Linked DNA regions of Homo sapiens: region 2 is linked to region 1. A link means that fine-mapping ties the variant in region 1 to the expression of a gene that starts in the linked region. Tissue or cell type: whole blood. Region 1 holds a variant in brackets; the other region holds the start of a gene. All regions are shown on one strand. Distances are between the middles of the regions.

Region 1 (8,183 bases):
ACAGAGATTGAGTCACCAACATGTGACCTGGTGATTTCTGAGTCCTCTGACTTTGAAATCAGTGGAAATTTAGAGCTCTACTTTGTCACTTGTAATGCTTTGTTGTTGCAAATAAATATTTTTGCAGCTGCATCACTTCATTGCTAATATATTTGAAGAAGGCAAGATAACCTAAAGGCATGAATCTTGTTCTGTTTTAATCCACCTGTAAGTCAGTGGTGGTTGTAAGGTAAATTGTAAGTAAGAGCTATTGGCCACCAAGTGCCAAGGGTTATGAATGATTTACCTTTTTTTTTTTTTCTAAACTGAAGGAAACTCATGGTTGTTCCTAGAAAAACATGCACACTCACTTGCTTGCATTCGGATAAGCTTCTTTGAGTAACAGGGAAGAGGCCACTAGGATTACAAGGCAGTTAGTGCCCATTGGAGTGTGACTGGCATTGTGCACCCTGTGAATCATAGTGGTGGTATGGGGAAAGGGGTAAAAAAGCATCAATCTATGGAGTATGCGAACCAGATGGCATCTGTCCTGGGAAGAACAAATATCCTTCATAGGAGAATTAGAGGACTATACTAGTCAGGCAGAAATCCAGTCCATTCATCAAGCTTTTCCTCTTGCTGTGGTCCCTACAGGGTCAGCCCTGTTTAGGCTCAAGCCTCTTAAATCCCAGTGCAAGACCAATTTCTCTATGAAATTCTCCCTGTCTTCTTTGGTCTCATGGCTACTTCCTGGGAGGAAAAAGTAGTAATCAGCTCCCTCCCCCCAGCTAAATGTGCATGGTATTAGCAAATTCTAACCCAAGATGTTAAAACTATCTGAGAAGAGGCATGATTCTGCTTCTTGTCTGTACCCTCCTAAAGTCAAGGTGCAGCAAGGAGAGAGACATTTGCATGTGGCCCCTGAGAAAGAAGAGATTTGTCTGCCTCACCCCCTGCTGGTGCAAACTTGCACCTCTCTCAGCCTCAGTTTTCTTATATGTATCAAGTTTCAATGATCGCAATAGTACTTATCTCATGTGACTACTGTGGGATTGAAACGAGATAGTTCATGTGAAGTACCGAGCACAGAGCCTGGCACACAGTAGGTACTCTATTAGTGTTAATATCACTGGAAAACCCAGCTGGGGGCTCAGCAGTAGAAGCTGCCAGAGCCTTAGTGTTACAGCCACATCCATTACCCCACCATTCACATACATTTCATGCCCCAGGGTGAGAATCCACATATCCCAAGCAGAGAGGCACAGCTTTGGTAAACTGAGTCTTAGCTAACTCATGTCAGAAACCAAGTGTTATCCTGGGGTTTGACTCCTGGCTCTTGCCACATTCATAGCAGGATGCTGAGTGGATTGTACTCAGCCTCACTTGTTGCATCTGTGAAATGGGGGTGATTTTTTGACTTCTCAAGGTATAGCATCTATTAAGGCACATAGACTACAATCTGACACAAATTAGCAGCTCCATACATTGCAGAATCTTTTCTTTTTCACTTAAGGAGATGCTAAAAGAGGCAAGAGGAAAGAAAATCAAATTTGGAGATGCCGTGGGCTGTGTGTTGAAGTTGGGCTCTGGTGGAATTGGTGGTGACCTTTTGCTTCTCTCCATCTGGATGGCTGTATCTTCAAAGACAACAAGTCTTAACTGCAGTTTTTGATTGTATAAATCTGGCCAAGTCCACTATTTACCCAGCCCAGTCTCCTTAGAGTAGGATTGGAAACTCAAACTTTGCTATCTCCTCTGCAGAGTGAGCAAGGGACAATCTTTATGAAAAACTTTAAGTTGCAAGATATTTGTGTTCTTAATAATGAAGGGAAGAATACAAAAATGATAATACTAAGCCTGGCTCATGGATAGCATTTTTGCACAATATATTTCATTTGGGCTGCAGCCTTTGAGCTGTACTAATTGCTCTGAGCATCTGTTTGTATGTCCGTTGCATGGGATGATTTACCCTCCTAGGTTTCCAAATGCTTTGGAGCCCCTGGTTTATTGCAGGACTTACTAAGTGGTGGCCATCGTCACTTTGATTGGCCCCTACCACAGTATTTTCCAGACTTTTCCACCAAGGCTCTTAGGGCTTTGTGGTGGGTGCCAGAACAATTGATGGGGTAGGGTGGGTGCTGGAAGAGAATGAGCATCTGGTAGATTGAGTCTCTGGGTCTGCCCTTCCACCCTCACTCCAGCCCCCATTAGCTCAGCTTGATTTTCAACCACTTGAAATACTGTGGTTGTGCCTAAGACATCATGTCAGGGAGAGAAAGAAACATCTGAAAACCATCAATCTTCTCTCTGAATGCTTCCACTGGTCCCATTTGCCTGTTGACAACCCAAGTTGAAAAGGCAGCACCAGAGGGGAATGGGGAAAATTAGCAGAACTGGAAAATCTGAGTTGAGATCTGGGTTTACCAAACTCTCCGTAAGACTTTGAGTCTGTGAAACTTATGTCCATTAGTTTCTTCACCTTTTAAATGGGTCTGTAGTACCTACCCTCTGGGCCTCACAGGCTGCTTTTGGGTGTGAAAGTGCTTTATAATTGGTGAAGGAAACTGCTACGTGGCAAGAATAGCAAAGCCTGATGTACTTTAATCCATTCGGTTCTGCTGAGGGTGGAGCCCCAATGTGTCTTAATTCATATGAGGTTTCTGAGAAGCTTTTTGAGATTTTAATACTGTCCCAGGTATGCACATCAACCTTCTCACTTTTATCCCCCAAGCTCCAAAATTTCATAACTTTTTATTTCATCTTGGGTGGCAGGAAGGCAAGGTGTGCCTGGGGGAGCTACAGGGAGTTATTCAAGGTCACATAATTAGCTTATAATTAACAGAGTTTAGGCTAGAACCAGTGCATCCCACTCCCAGATGGGGGCCCCCGGCTTATCTCAGCATGTCAGCAACCCATGAATCAGCCCTGAAATATAGATATTACCTATGAGTAACAGTTTCTCATCCTACCTCAACTGTTACGAAAGTCTTCCCTCAAACTAAAGCTAAGCAGTTCCACAAAATGCCAGCTATAGACATTAGCAGAAACTGTATATTGATTAGGTGATGTATCAGTCATTGTAACTACCCAGAAAAAAAAATACAATGACAAAACCAAGTGGCCCAACCTTATTTTCTACTTGCAAGAGGAAAAACCCTATTTGGGCCCCAAGATGCTTTTTTCATTTCATTTACCACATCCTGGGTTTGTGCTAGTCAATCTGCTAAATCAATAAGATCCGAAAAAGCAGAAAACAAAGATCGTGAGGCCAGAGGATTTCCTGATCACCA[T/C]GGCAACACACAGGGGTGGGTACTGTGGTTTCTCTGCCTGAAGACGCACTCGTCAAAGACTACTTGGTGTTACAGAATTCTGGTGCAGTGAAGCAACAGTTCTGGGACATATACTTTCTTTTGCCAGAAAGACTCTGTTGGATCCAGGACCAGGAGTGGGGGGTTAAACAGTTCTCCATACCCTCACCTCCAAGTCCCCATCATCCCATTAGGAGACAGGGACAGTACTGTTCTCCAAACTCTCAAAACAACCCAAGAGCTTTCTAGGCTGTGCATTGGGTTGATCATTTGGTGGCCTTGGCTGAAGGGCCAGGGTAACAGCTAGGAGAACCCTTGGGATTCTTCTCCAATGTGACAGGCCCCTCCATGTTGGTTCAGCGTTGACTGCCATGACAGGCTCCAGGCTCCACGGAAAAAAGGCAGAGAAATCAGGGGGTCCAGCCAGGCGCCAAGACGTTGGGGTGCCTTGCATTTCTAAGTGCCAAGTGATGAATAGCTCAGTTGAAAGCAACCCAGGGCACATTCTGGAGGAAATTCTCTGGGTATGATTGTGCATGACTGTTTTCTCTGCTCATTAAACCCTCATCTGCCTCCAGGGCAATTCCGGGAGAGACTGAGTCACTCAAGACTCATGGTCTGCACTGGGCAGCCAAAGGCGATTCGGCCACCAAGTGTGATTCTGGCCTCATTCAGAAGTGGATGCTAAACAATACACCCTTTCACCAGGAGCCCATCACATGGGCATCAGGAGATGGGGGCGAGTGATGTGCCAGCCTTCTAGACTGGCAGGCCTGGGGGGCAGCAGAGGGCACAATAGCTAGAAAGACTCCCAGATGAAAACTTCTGGGCTTTGAAGCCTTCGAACAAATGAAGAAGAAAATGACTTCTTCGTGTCCTATTAAGACAGTGAGTTGTGGCTTTTTTGAGAGCAGCTTGCTCAGACCTCTTATGAAAGATAGATCAGTAGCAACAGCACTGGTGTAGGAGTCAGAAATCTGCAATTATGAACCACTGAGTTTTGTGTGTGTGTGTGTGTGTTTTTGTTTTTGTTTTTTGTTTGTTTTGTTTTGTTTTTTAACTTGCTGGAGGACCATACTCGGCTATCCTTGATTTTATTTTCTCCTGTGTCACAAGAGAAATTGGTTAGAAGCTTCCCATTGTGCCTCCTGGCTTTAAAAATAGATAATCCAATTAACAATAATGCTTTAAAACAACAAAACCTTGTCCTTTTCCCTTCCTACTTCTGATCAGAACCAGCTCAGTAAGATTTATTAGTTGTGCAATCTGTTTTGGACATGAGCTCAGCAAATCAGAGGACAGAAATAGAATCCTGGCTTTTTAATGATAAACACTGTAAAAATAAAAAATTTGGAGAGCTTACCAGTGCTTCTGGCTGCCCAAGTGGTTTGTGTGTGGTTGACTCCCAGGAGCTCAATCACTTTGGGTGCAGTCCACCCAGAGAGCTATGTTCCAGCTACATCAACCTGGAGCCTTAGCTTGGTCAGTCTAGATTTTTGGGTTTGGCTGCAGACATCTCGTAATGTCACAAGGACAGCCTGTGTCCTTGGTGACCCAACCCTGGGCCAACCCCAAGTCCTGGAGTCCTCTCCTAAGAGCCCTGCCTAATTGTAGAGAGAGCATTCAGGCTGTAAAGGGCAGGAGGCCTGGGGGCTACGACTAGGTTTGGGCTTTCTAAATTCCCAAGAGTATGATGGGAAGACCAACAGGCAGAATCAGAGAGAAGCAGTCAGCCCACTGCTGGGGAAAGCCAGTCAAGGTCAAGACTTCAGAATCTCCTCTCTGGAGAGAGAGTGAAAATTCCATTAGTGAAGTTTGTTCCACTGAAGCCTTACCAGGCCTTGGTAAAGGCCCCTATCTTGTGGTCCAGAATCAAGGGACTTCTGATCTTAAAATAATATTCAATAAGCTCAAATTCTTCTCTCTAGGGCTCTCTTTTCATGATCACCTCTCCACACTTTATTAAAAAATCACATGAAGGGTAAGTGGGCTTCCTGTCATTTCAGTGTCTGACCTGTGCATAAGTTGGAATTTAACACTGGAAAATGATCAGCCAGATTGCCCAGTCTGAAACCCAGGTCCCCCAGTGACTAGCACAAGTTACTTACATCTTCTCAATGAATCAGTTACCTCTTGTGTAAAATGGGGATAATAAAAATGCCTGCCACACAGGATTGTTAGGAAAATTAAGTGAAATATTAGGTGTAAAGTGCTGAATACCTTGAACCCAGACTAGGCACTCAGTGAGTGCTCACTGTGGTTATGGACCAGGAGCTGCAGGAATTAGAACACCATTGAGTAGCAGGAACTGGCTTTATTCTCATCTTCATGATAAAGCAACTTCTCCTTACATATAGCTTAATCTGGAACCAAAAATCTAATTCTGCCTCATCCCTCCTGAGGAGATGACAAATAGGGATCAGGCACACCTGGGTGGCTCAAGTTAGAAAACAAATTAACTCATTTTGCAGAATCTGGAGACGTCTGGTCTGGAGAACTGACAGTGCCCTCTCTTTGGGCATAGTATGACTGTAGGTTGTCTTTGGGTGGTCTTCATATGGAATGTACTGTGTTTGCCATGTTCCCTAGGAGATCTGGCCTCAGAAATGGCCCTGTGATGGTATGTGAACATACTGTCCTGTAACTGAGATGATAGCTTGCACATTCAGACAGACAAAGCCAGTTACAAAACTAAAAGTTGGTCTCTGAAACATTTGCTTTCGGGGAAAACAGCAAATGTTCACAGAAGCAAAGTTCTGGGTTAAAGACATTTTAAGTATCCAATAAGGAATTCTCAGCAAACACCAGCTGGTGATTCCTCAGATATGATGTGGGAAAGGAACCTGATAGGTGATCTTTTTGCACCCTATAAGACTGCAGCCTGTCGGGGGTTGGGGGCAGAAAGAGAGCATTTATTAATTCATTATTTCATTCAACATTTGCCTACCATGGGAGGCTGTACTAGGTACTGGGAATATAATTGTGAAGAAGGGAGACACCATTTCTGTTGTCAACGAAGCCCACAGAGAAGTTCCAAAATTTCAGAATGCTGGAATTTCTGGTTACTAGAGACCTTGAAGATAATAATTTCTTGTAATTCTTTACCTGGTTGTGTCACAGACTTTGAAAACCAATGAAAACCAGAGATGTTGCCCTACCTAAACACACACACACACACACACACACACACATCCATACACACAATCTTGCATATAATCTCACAGGTCCATGGATGTATTGACCAGCTCCTGGATTCCATATTGAAAATCCCTTGCAGCCCAGCTCCAATACTAGTACCAGGCCACTCACCTCTCAGGAAAGTTTGGGAAGACGTAGATAATGGCAACTTGGGTGAAAATTACACAGTGCTCTCTTCCCAGCACATGTTGTGATTTTCTACAACTTCAGAAATAACTGGGGTGGACCAAGAAGCTATTATTCCTCGCAGGCCCTACAATCTAGGCAAAGCTTTGAAATGTGCTCGGACAATTTTATCAGAGATCTATTTTCCTTGATCTGAGGCTTAGGGGGCAGTATAGATGAGATTAATGGCATTTGGGATCAGTGATGGTTTATCCAGGAGAGAATGCATAGTACCTGTAACCAGGAGCCTGAATAGGAGGCAACATAGCATAGAGGTTAGAATCCTGACTTTCCCACTTGGATGACATTGGGCAAAGGACTTCACCACTTTGTGCCTCAGTTTCCTCATCTCTAAAATGGGTTTAGCAATAGTGCCTACCTCATAGCATTTTTATGAGAATTAAATTAGCTGAAGTACATAAGGCACCTAATAAGTGTGCAATGCTCATTGGCTCTGATTATTAAGTGTCAAACACCATATCAAGTGTTTGACATACCTTATTTCATGTAATAGTCCCATAAACCCTGACAGGTTCGCATTGTCATCCCATCAAGGAAGAGGTGGAGAGTCAGAGAGGTTAAGTAATTAACAACCTGTGTCACCTAAAGTGAGTGGCAGGGTCAGGAATTGAACCAGGTTTGAGGAGGTCCTAACTAGGTTGAACTACTGACCTTCATAAAAGTTTGGCACTACAGACCAGCTTTATAGGACAAAAAAACCTTCTTTCAGAGCTCCTTTTTCTCGCCTTCCTGACAGCTCCCTAGCAGACCTCTTCCCATGTGGGTAGGGAGATAAGGTTCCTAGACACTGGGACACTGGTCTCCATGACCCCTCTGTGCTGCCCACAGCCCTATAGTAATGAGCGTGCTAAAGGCCTGGTGGCATTTCTACCACGGGAAGTCTCCTCTCCAAATCCAAAAGTGGCCTCAAACAGTCAGTGTTTTCAGTTGAGCTCATTTATCGCTCAGAGGGAGGCACTTGGGACATTTTATTCATTACATGATGCAGGAGATTTATTGGAGACCAGAGGGCTCAACGGAAAACATTCTTGGTTTATTTCCAGCCAGAAAGGCTTGTTTGAGAGATGCAATCAGCCATTTAGTATTAGCTTCTTGAATCAAAGTGGATCCTGAATCACAGAGTTCTCTGTTTCTCAGGAGAGACACACAGACATCTGAGGAGTCTTGCCTCTCTATAGTGGTTTGCAGCATGGCTAGCACCATTGCCAGAGACACTGGCACTCTGTCAAGCAATGTTCTGTGGTCCATGGCTATTCACATCTTAACCTTGCCTTAATTCTACTTCATTGTGAGTTTGGGCATGTTTCTTTATTTCTTCCCCTCTCTGTGTGTTAGTTTCTCCATCTGGAAAATGAGGATACTAATATTACCCACCTCATAGGAATGTTTTAAGGATAAAATGAGTAAATAATTCTAAAGTGCCTAAAATAGAGCCTGGCATATACACAATGAATGCACAATAAATATTAGCCACTGCTCTTGCTGTTGGCATTATTAATATCCTCCCGGGTA
Region 2 (8,183 bases), 28 kb before region 1:
TCCTCCCACCAGTTCATGTGATTCCTGAAACACCCCTATGCGCTTTGATGGGAGGGAAAAAAAATAACAGTCCCTCATACATTTATGTAATGCTTATTTATGGAGCACAGTGTATATGTTAGGGACTGAGAGCTGAGTATGTGCTGGCACCCCAGAAGGACATGTCCCTGTTCTCAGGTAGCTTAGAGGTCATTGAGTCCCACCATGAGGCAGGCACACCAGGAAATGGTCTTGATGTCTTCTTTCACTGACTACTCATAATAAACTATGGGAAAGGTCTGATTACCCTTGTTTTGTGGCTGGGATTACCGAAACTCCCAGAGGTTAAGTCATCCTCTGATAAGGGGGAAAGCCAATGCTCAGACCTGGACTTTCTCGGTCCAAGGCTGCTGATTGAATTCTGGATTCTTCCCAAATAGTGTAATCTCGTGTCAACTCAAATCAATTCAAGTTTCCTTTCCAGTTTCCCACATCCCATGGTTTGGCTTAGAAAGAAAGATGGTGCAACACACAACAGATATCAAGCATCTAAGAGTTTGGGAAGGGTTTGTGTGACCAGTGGTGTGGGCAGGGTGTCTTTAGAATGGAAAGTGGATGAGAGGGGAGCTCAAAGAGGTGATCCAGGAATTCCCAAAGGTGGACCTTGACTCAGTAAGTCACCAGGTCTGTTATTTGAAATGAGTCATTTGTGGTATGGGGGCAAATGACCTCAGTCCCTCACCAAACTATCGGGAAGCAAGCAAACAAAATAATCCCCGCTTCTGGGGAGAATAATCCTAATTACAGCCCCTAGAATTTGCATGCCCTTCTACAGTTTGCAAAGCACTTTCACACCTATATTTTCCTTGGTGGAATTGTTTACTGCACTAATGGAGAAGGGACCAGGACTTGATATGGCCTAGTTTGTTGGTTTTTATATATTTTTTAAGAATAATCATCTGTCAAAATGTAATTTCATGCAATAGTCTGGTATATAAAACTGATGCAAGTGGAACTTCTGTGGTTGGGATGGGGCCTGGGGAGGGAGAGGCACAGCTTACTCCTCAGCTTTTACTCTGACCACTAGGTCTGCTTCTGAGGGGTCTCTAAGGAACCTCCAGGTTCCATGAAACACAGTAAGACAGACATTGTTCCTAGTGACTCCCCACGTCACTTCACTTTCTTGCTCCAAGAAAAGGAAGCTGAAATCCCTGGAGGTTGCATGAGGTGAAAAAAGCTGCTCCTTGTCCTGTATTCTTGTGCATGGAACCTACCAGGGCTGGTTTCCTCACATGAGTAGGGACTGAAGCCTTATCTGGGAGCCAGTTTGCCCCCAGTTGTTTCAAGAAATAAAGTGTCCTCTTGGTCACAGACAGCAGCAGTAACAACTTTTTCCTGCGGACTGGCAGCATTTTCCAAGCACCTGCTCTTCAGGTGGGAGTTACGGGTCACTGTCTTCATTCCAGACGGGCGGCTCTTTGAGTCATGGCATGCCAGCTTCTGAGTGGCTGAGGACTAGATCCAGACAAGGATTTTTCAGTCCCAAACACTCTTCCTGAAAATGCAAGAGGAGTAGTCTTTAGTCAAACAGAATCTCCACAACTGAAAAATTTATACCGGACTAGACAGTGGTAGTGGTTGCACAATATTGTTAAAGTACTACACGTCACTGCTATAAACACTTTTAAATGGGTGAAATGGTAAATTTTATGTTATGCATATTTTAACATAACAATGATAATAATTTTAACTAAGTACGTTGCCTCCTTATTTCCTACAGGGTCAAGTTCAAACTCCCTGGCATAGCTTACACCTTGTAGTCCCCATACCTGTAACCTCATGTCTGCTATCTTCCCCCAGCCCCTTCATCTGATCTATGTTCAGATCAGCTCACATTGCTCTCTATTCTCTGGACAAGCCATGTTCTTTCACTTTTCTATGCTCAAACACAATTTTGCTTTTAGTAATGATAGCAAACACTTATTTAAAGTGCTTACTGCATGCATATGTAGACATAAATCTACGGCTTAATACATGCAGGGCTTTTGAGTCATTTAATCCTCACCAATTCTATGAAGTAATAGAATTGTAATAGTAATAATAGATACTATTATTAAGCCCATTTTATACTTGAGCAAATTGAGCTAATTGCCTTAGGCAAGGTCACACAACTAAGAAGCAGCCATAATAGGGTTTGGATCTAGGTGTTCTAGCTCCTGAATCCATGCTGTTCGTCACTACACTGTACTGCCTGTGGATGACTTACTTGTCCCTGTAGTTTCATCTGAAGAATTCCTCCTCCTTTTCCTTTGAGGCCTGCCTCAAATATCACTTCCCCTGTGAAGACTGCCTGGTGTTCTCCAGGAGAGAGTGTGACTCCCTTCTCTAGGAATGGTAGCACCCCAAACACACACATTTTGCAGCATATTTCACCTTGCATGGTAATGGCCTGCTTGTGAGTTTTATTCCGTACCAGAGGGTGAGGGCTCTGAAGATAGCGCCAGGTCTTATTTACCTCGATACCCCACAACACTCATTACATGTCTGATGAATGAATGCATAGGGGGATGGCTGGGTGCATTTCTCTCAACTTTTCAATTTCTTGAAATAAATAACAAAATCTTACCTTCCCTCAGAAGTCCTGGCATGGTTCCTTTCATCTTGCCACAGCCACTGATAATCACTTTCATTTTCTGTGTAACTCACCAGGCAAGAAGTCCATGCAGATTTACTTTTAGTAGTTCACATGACAAATAAATACTGCGTTTGATTTCCAAACATTAAACCATAGTATATTATAGATAGATATAGAGTTATCATTCAAAGTATGATATTTCAATCTCAAAAGGCTTCCCCTGAAGAATATTACAAACTCTTCCTCTCTTTAAGATCTGCTGGGTAGGAAAGATGGGAGAAAATGAATTAATGTTTACACAGAAAGGAGGATAATGGGGGCAAAAATAATAGATGAACGTATGGGTGGATGAGAGAATGGATAAAATGATAGGTGGATATGTTGATCTTGGACAGATGGGAAATGAGTGGATATATCAATAAACAGATATGTGGGTGGATGGGTGGAGAAGAGGATGGTGGATGGTTGTGGTTTTATGAAGAGATGTGAAAAAGGAAGTGTGGAATGATGGATGAGAAGTTGTATGGGAAGATGAATAGAAGAATAGGTGGTTGAATAAATTAAAAGGTGTGTGGTTGGATGAATGAATGAGTGGGATGATAGATGGACCTAAGTGGTTAGTGGATGGACAGGAGGATGGATGGATGTGAGAGCCCCAGAAGGACATAAGGAAAGATGGGTGGATAGATGGATGGGCGGATGGAAGGATATTTAGGAGGATGAATGAGCATGTGTGTGGAGAGAGGTGCCCATTCACACTGGCTTGAACACATGGGTTAGCTGAGCCAAATGCCAGCCCTATGACAGGCCATCAGTAGCTTTCCCTGAGCTGTTCTGCCAAGAAGCTAAAATTCATTCAAGCCATGTGGACTTGTTATTGAGGGGAAAAAGAATGAGCTCTCCCTCTTTCCACTTGGAAGATTCACCAACTCCCCACCCCTCACTCCCCACTGTGGGCACGGAGGCACTGCGCCACCCAGGGCAAGACCTCGCCCTCTCTCCAGCTCCTCTCCCAGGATATCCAACATCCTGTGAAACCCAGAGATCTTGCTCCAGCCGGATTCAGAGAAATTTAGCGGGAAAGGAGAGGCCAAAGGCTGAACCCAATGGTGCAAGGTTTTACGGTTCGGTCATCCTCTGTCCTGACGCCGCGGGGCCAGCGGGAGAAGAAAGCCAGTGCGTCTCTGGGCGCAGGGGCCAGTGGGGCTCGGAGGCACAGGCACCCCGCGACACTCCAGGTTCCCCGACCCACGTCCCTGGCAGCCCCGATTATTTACAGCCTCAGCAGAGCACGGGGCGGGGGCAGAGGGGCCCGCCCGGGAGGGCTGCTACTTCTTAAAACCTCTGCGGGCTGCTTAGTCACAGCCCCCCTTGCTTGGGTGTGTCCTTCGCTCGCTCCCTCCCTCCGTCTTAGGTCACTGTTTTCAACCTCGAATAAAAACTGCAGCCAACTTCCGAGGCAGCCTCATTGCCCAGCGGACCCCAGCCTCTGCCAGGTTCGGTCCGCCATCCTCGTCCCGTCCTCCGCCGGCCCCTGCCCCGCGCCCAGGGATCCTCCAGCTCCTTTCGCCCGCGCCCTCCGTTCGCTCCGGACACCATGGACAAGTTTTGGTGGCACGCAGCCTGGGGACTCTGCCTCGTGCCGCTGAGCCTGGCGCAGATCGGTGAGTGCCCGCCGCAGCCTGGGCAGCAAGATGGGTGCGGGGTGCTCAGCGCGGACCCGGCGGCAGCCCCTCCGGCTGAGTCGGCCCTGGGGGACTGGAGTCAAGTGAGCTGTCTGCGAAGTGCATTGGGCTCCGGAAAGCAGGGCTGGGATTTGCGCTAAACCGTTGGAGAATGTGTCTGTGGAAGCACCATTTGGTTGAAAGAAAAAGAGAAAGAGAAGAAAGTTTGTTGGGCAGGCTGCCGGCGCGCAGTTTTGGGCGAGGTCGCTAGAGCTGCAGCACATGGCAGAAAGTAACCGTTCTCCCGGATGCGCACAGTCGTTGTCTGGACTAACAGGCTCCTGTGCCCAAGGGCTCGCCAAGCCCCACCGGGCTGTGTCTAGGCAGGGCAGAGCTGGGCGGGGCAGAGACTGGGGCTGGAACAGGGCGAGTGGCTGTTATCAAGGTGGTCACAGAAGGGATCACAATTCCAAGTGTGAGACTAGCTGGCAATGGGTTTTCCAGAAAGGGGTCCTGGGTTCTCCCAGCTCCCCACTGAGCCTTGTTCCAAAGCTTACAGTCCGCAGTGTCACTGCCACCTTAGCGCTGTGGAAGCTTGAACCAGCTCTGCGGTGAGGTCTTGGGTCTCCATGAGATTCCAGCCTGGGATAGGGAGCATGAATATGAGAGGCAACCACTGGACCAGCTGCTTGGTCCTCACCACCTCCTGCTTCTGCCAATCAGTGTGGGGAAATCTCAACAGTAAGGTGGCTTATATTCCCTGCCTGGCAGCCTCAGAGCAGAGAGAAGAGCCTTGATACCAGGGCAACATCAGGGACCCTGGAGCTAGGGCTCCAATATCTCATCCAAACAGGGTCAGTGCTTTGTGGTGGCTATGGAGGGGAGGGGCTGCGTGTAAGGTATATTCTAGCACGGCTCAACTCCAAGCATTCTCTTTCTTTGTCTATGTATGTACAGATAATTACATGGCCGATTTGCTTATCGCTGGCCAAAATTAATCTTTCTTTTAAGAAGTGCCAGCTGGGTCATTAAGACAGCTCAGCCTGCATGCAGTAAATTCTACTCAGCAAATATTTATTAACCCAGTTCCACGGGAGTACTGAGAAATTGAAACACACAGTCTCACCCAGGTAGTTTAGATTGAGTACCCAGTATAAAGTATCTTGAATTACTTTCTGCTTTCTCTATCTTCCTACTTTCTGCAGTAGGAAGAAAGTGACCCTAGGTGGAGGCTAGGCAGGATGAGTTCTCTGTGCATATGCATCTCCCTTTCTGTGTGAGTGAGAGGTCTTTGCTAGGTGGGGATTTGGGGATCTAGGATTTATACTACTGAAGCTGAAATAATAATAATAATGATAGCAACAACACAGCCTGTCATGGTGGCCCATGCCTGTAATCCTAGGACTTTGGGAGGCTGAGGCAGCAAATTACCCAAGGTCAGGAGTTTGAGACCAGCCTTGGCCAACATGGTGAAACCCCATCTTTACAAAAAATACAAAAATTAGCAGGGTGTGGTGGTGCACACCTGTAGTCCCAGCTGCTTGGGACGCTGAGGCAGGAGAATTGCTTGAACCTAGGAGGTGAAGGTTGCAGTGAACCAAGATTATGCCATTGCACTCCAGCCTGGGTGACAAAGCGTGACTCTGTTAAAAAAAAAAAAATGAATACAGTGCTAGCTACCATTTACTGTATATTTTCACTGTGCCAGGCATTATGTTAAATATTTTCCATGTGTTATCTCATTCTACCCTCACAATGGCCTAGTAAGAAGCTTCCTGTTATCAGGCCTGTTTGACAGGAGGAAAACTGATGCTTAGAGACGTTAAGTGACTTGCTGGCATTCACATAGCCAGGAGCAGTGCTGGATGGAAACCCAGCTCCACTGAGCTCCAAAGCCTAGGCTTAGAATATGTTAGACTGTATAAGATGGACGAACTTGGAAGGATTTCAGGGAGGGAAGGATTTTGGTGGACTCTAGGCCTTAGGGAAAGTTCCAAAAGGGACTGGAGCTCAAATAAGCCCTTGAAAAGTGGAAACATTCAGGATGGGAGAGAAGAGTCAAGCTGGAGATCAGGGAGAGCCCTGGGCCTGGCCTGAAAGAAGAGGGCCCTGGTGGTTTCCCTATAGTCTCTAGGGAAGTTTATTTGTATGTTACCTACCAGTGCCATCTTCTGCTTTGTCTTTGGGCATTCTGACTCCTGACTCCTTCCAACCTGTCTCCCCGTTCCTTCTAAAAGGCCCCACTTCCAAATATTTGGCACTGTCCTAACCCTTGAGGTTCTCCCAGAGACCCGCAGTCTCCCTCCTGCCCCGTGTTTCCACGGCCCCTTTGCGCAGCATCATTTAGAGGAAGTACAATGAAGTGCCAGTAGCAATAACTGCCCCGGCCCTCGCTTTCATGTGCTTGTAAAGTTGTTTGGCAGGAACTGGGACTTGGAAAGGAGACATGACTTTGTCAGAGGGCTTGGGGCTGGGCATGGTGTGGGTGGCGAAGGGGAGAAGGAGGAAAGGGGAAGGAAAGGAGCTCTTGTTGCCCCATTCTGGGGAGTGGTGGACTCTGGACAACCACGAGGAAACTTTGGAAAGGAGCAAGGCTTTGAGGAGGAGTCCAGTCTTTGTATGGGAAAGCAAAAAGTGGAGAAATGGCCAAATGTAGTTAAGTGACATTGGACCCAGAAACTCTGAGTTGGGGAACAGATATCTTGAATTCGGGGTCTTGTGCAGGAGGAAGAAAGTGGCCCTTGGTGGAGGCCAGGGGGGATGAGTCCTTCATGCACATGCATCTCCTTGTCTCTGTGGGTGAGGGGATCTTTTTTTTTAATTATTATTATACTTTAAGTTTTAGGGTTCAACCATTGTGGAAGTCAGTGTGGCGATTCCTCAGGGATCTAGAACTAGAAATACCATTTGACCCAGCCATCCCATTACTGGGTATATACCCAAAGGACTACAAATCATGCTGCTATAAAGACACATGCACATGTATGTTTATTGTGGCATTATTCACAATAGCAAAGACTTGGAACCAACCCAAATGTCCAACAATGATAGACTGGGTGAGGGGATCTTTGCTTGGGAATTGCATGCCTGGTGTTGAGAAAGAGGAGAGCGTCTGAGAGCCCTGGGTCTTAGGGCTGGCACACACCTTTCTGCTCCCTTCTCTCTAATTGAGCATTAGAGACTCCGCCCCCTGCTGGGAGTTAGAACTTTAGCTGTGTTTTCCCATGTGAAGGAGCAAAGAGGCAAAGCTTCATCTCTGTTGGGGCTAGCATCAACTAATTCAGGTATTCCCCATTTACACATTGGACATCTACTTGCTGCAAAGGCATGGTGACAAGTCCTTGTGTGGGAGGCTGGCAGCCAGTAGGAAAATGTTCCATTTGTTTTTTCCCAAATTTCCCCACAAAGGAGGGGATGCTGGACAGCATGAAATTCTTAGTTCATGACAGATTCCCTTCCATTCATTCAGGAACTATTTCCTGACTCATTGTCATAGACTCAGAGATGGGAACTCTAAGGATCATTTAGAAAATCTGAAAGAGAGGGACTAGTGACTTCCCCTCTCTGCGACTTGTTAAGATATTAGGGCAGGGCATTTCTCTCATGTATCTCTATCATGAGGACTGTGGGAGCCTCAACCCCACCCCCTGCAGTGGGTGGGGAGGGTGTGGTCTACTGGGGTAACAACATTTGTTTCACACCTTAAATACTACCTTACAGACTCATTACAGTTTTATATATTACTCTACAATATACCCAATTTGAGTTTAATACAATAATAATGATATATATTTTTGACCATATAGCAATGTTGGTGTTCGACAATGATTCTCTGTATTGTCCTGGGGCTTCTAGCACCTCCTGGAACATCGCTAGATGGTCAGGAGCACCAAAGTTTTAAAAAC

Evidence for each region. PIP is the estimated chance that this variant, and not a neighbour inherited with it, causes the effect.
Region 2: CD44 starts here. The variant in region 1 is fine-mapped to the expression of CD44 in whole blood (TOPMed, PIP above 0.99).

What each region holds. Positions count from the first base shown.
Region 1 is chr11:35,162,965-35,171,147 of GRCh38, forward strand. All of the region lies in intron 1 of CD44 (CD44 molecule (IN blood group)), which reads left to right. It overlaps SNORD164 (small nucleolar RNA, C/D box 164), which reads left to right; the gene lies at 1-46. Among named protein-coding and RNA genes, the nearest start is that of SNORD164, 4.1 kb to the left of the region's middle. RefSeq lists a silencer at 2,595-2,644 and an enhancer at 3,065-3,124. The variant T/C (reference allele first, on the strand shown) is at 3,270.
Region 2 is chr11:35,135,093-35,143,275 of GRCh38, forward strand. It overlaps CD44 (CD44 molecule (IN blood group)), which reads left to right and starts at 4,079. Exons shown (of 18, transcript NM_000610.4): 1 at 4,079-4,278. The coding sequence starts at 4,212. CD44-DT (CD44 divergent transcript) reads right to left here and starts at 2,940. Exons shown (of 3, transcript NR_120528.1): 1 at 2,606-2,940; 2 at 1,254-1,534. RefSeq lists enhancers at 3,244-3,808, 4,976-5,476 and a silencer at 3,719-3,788.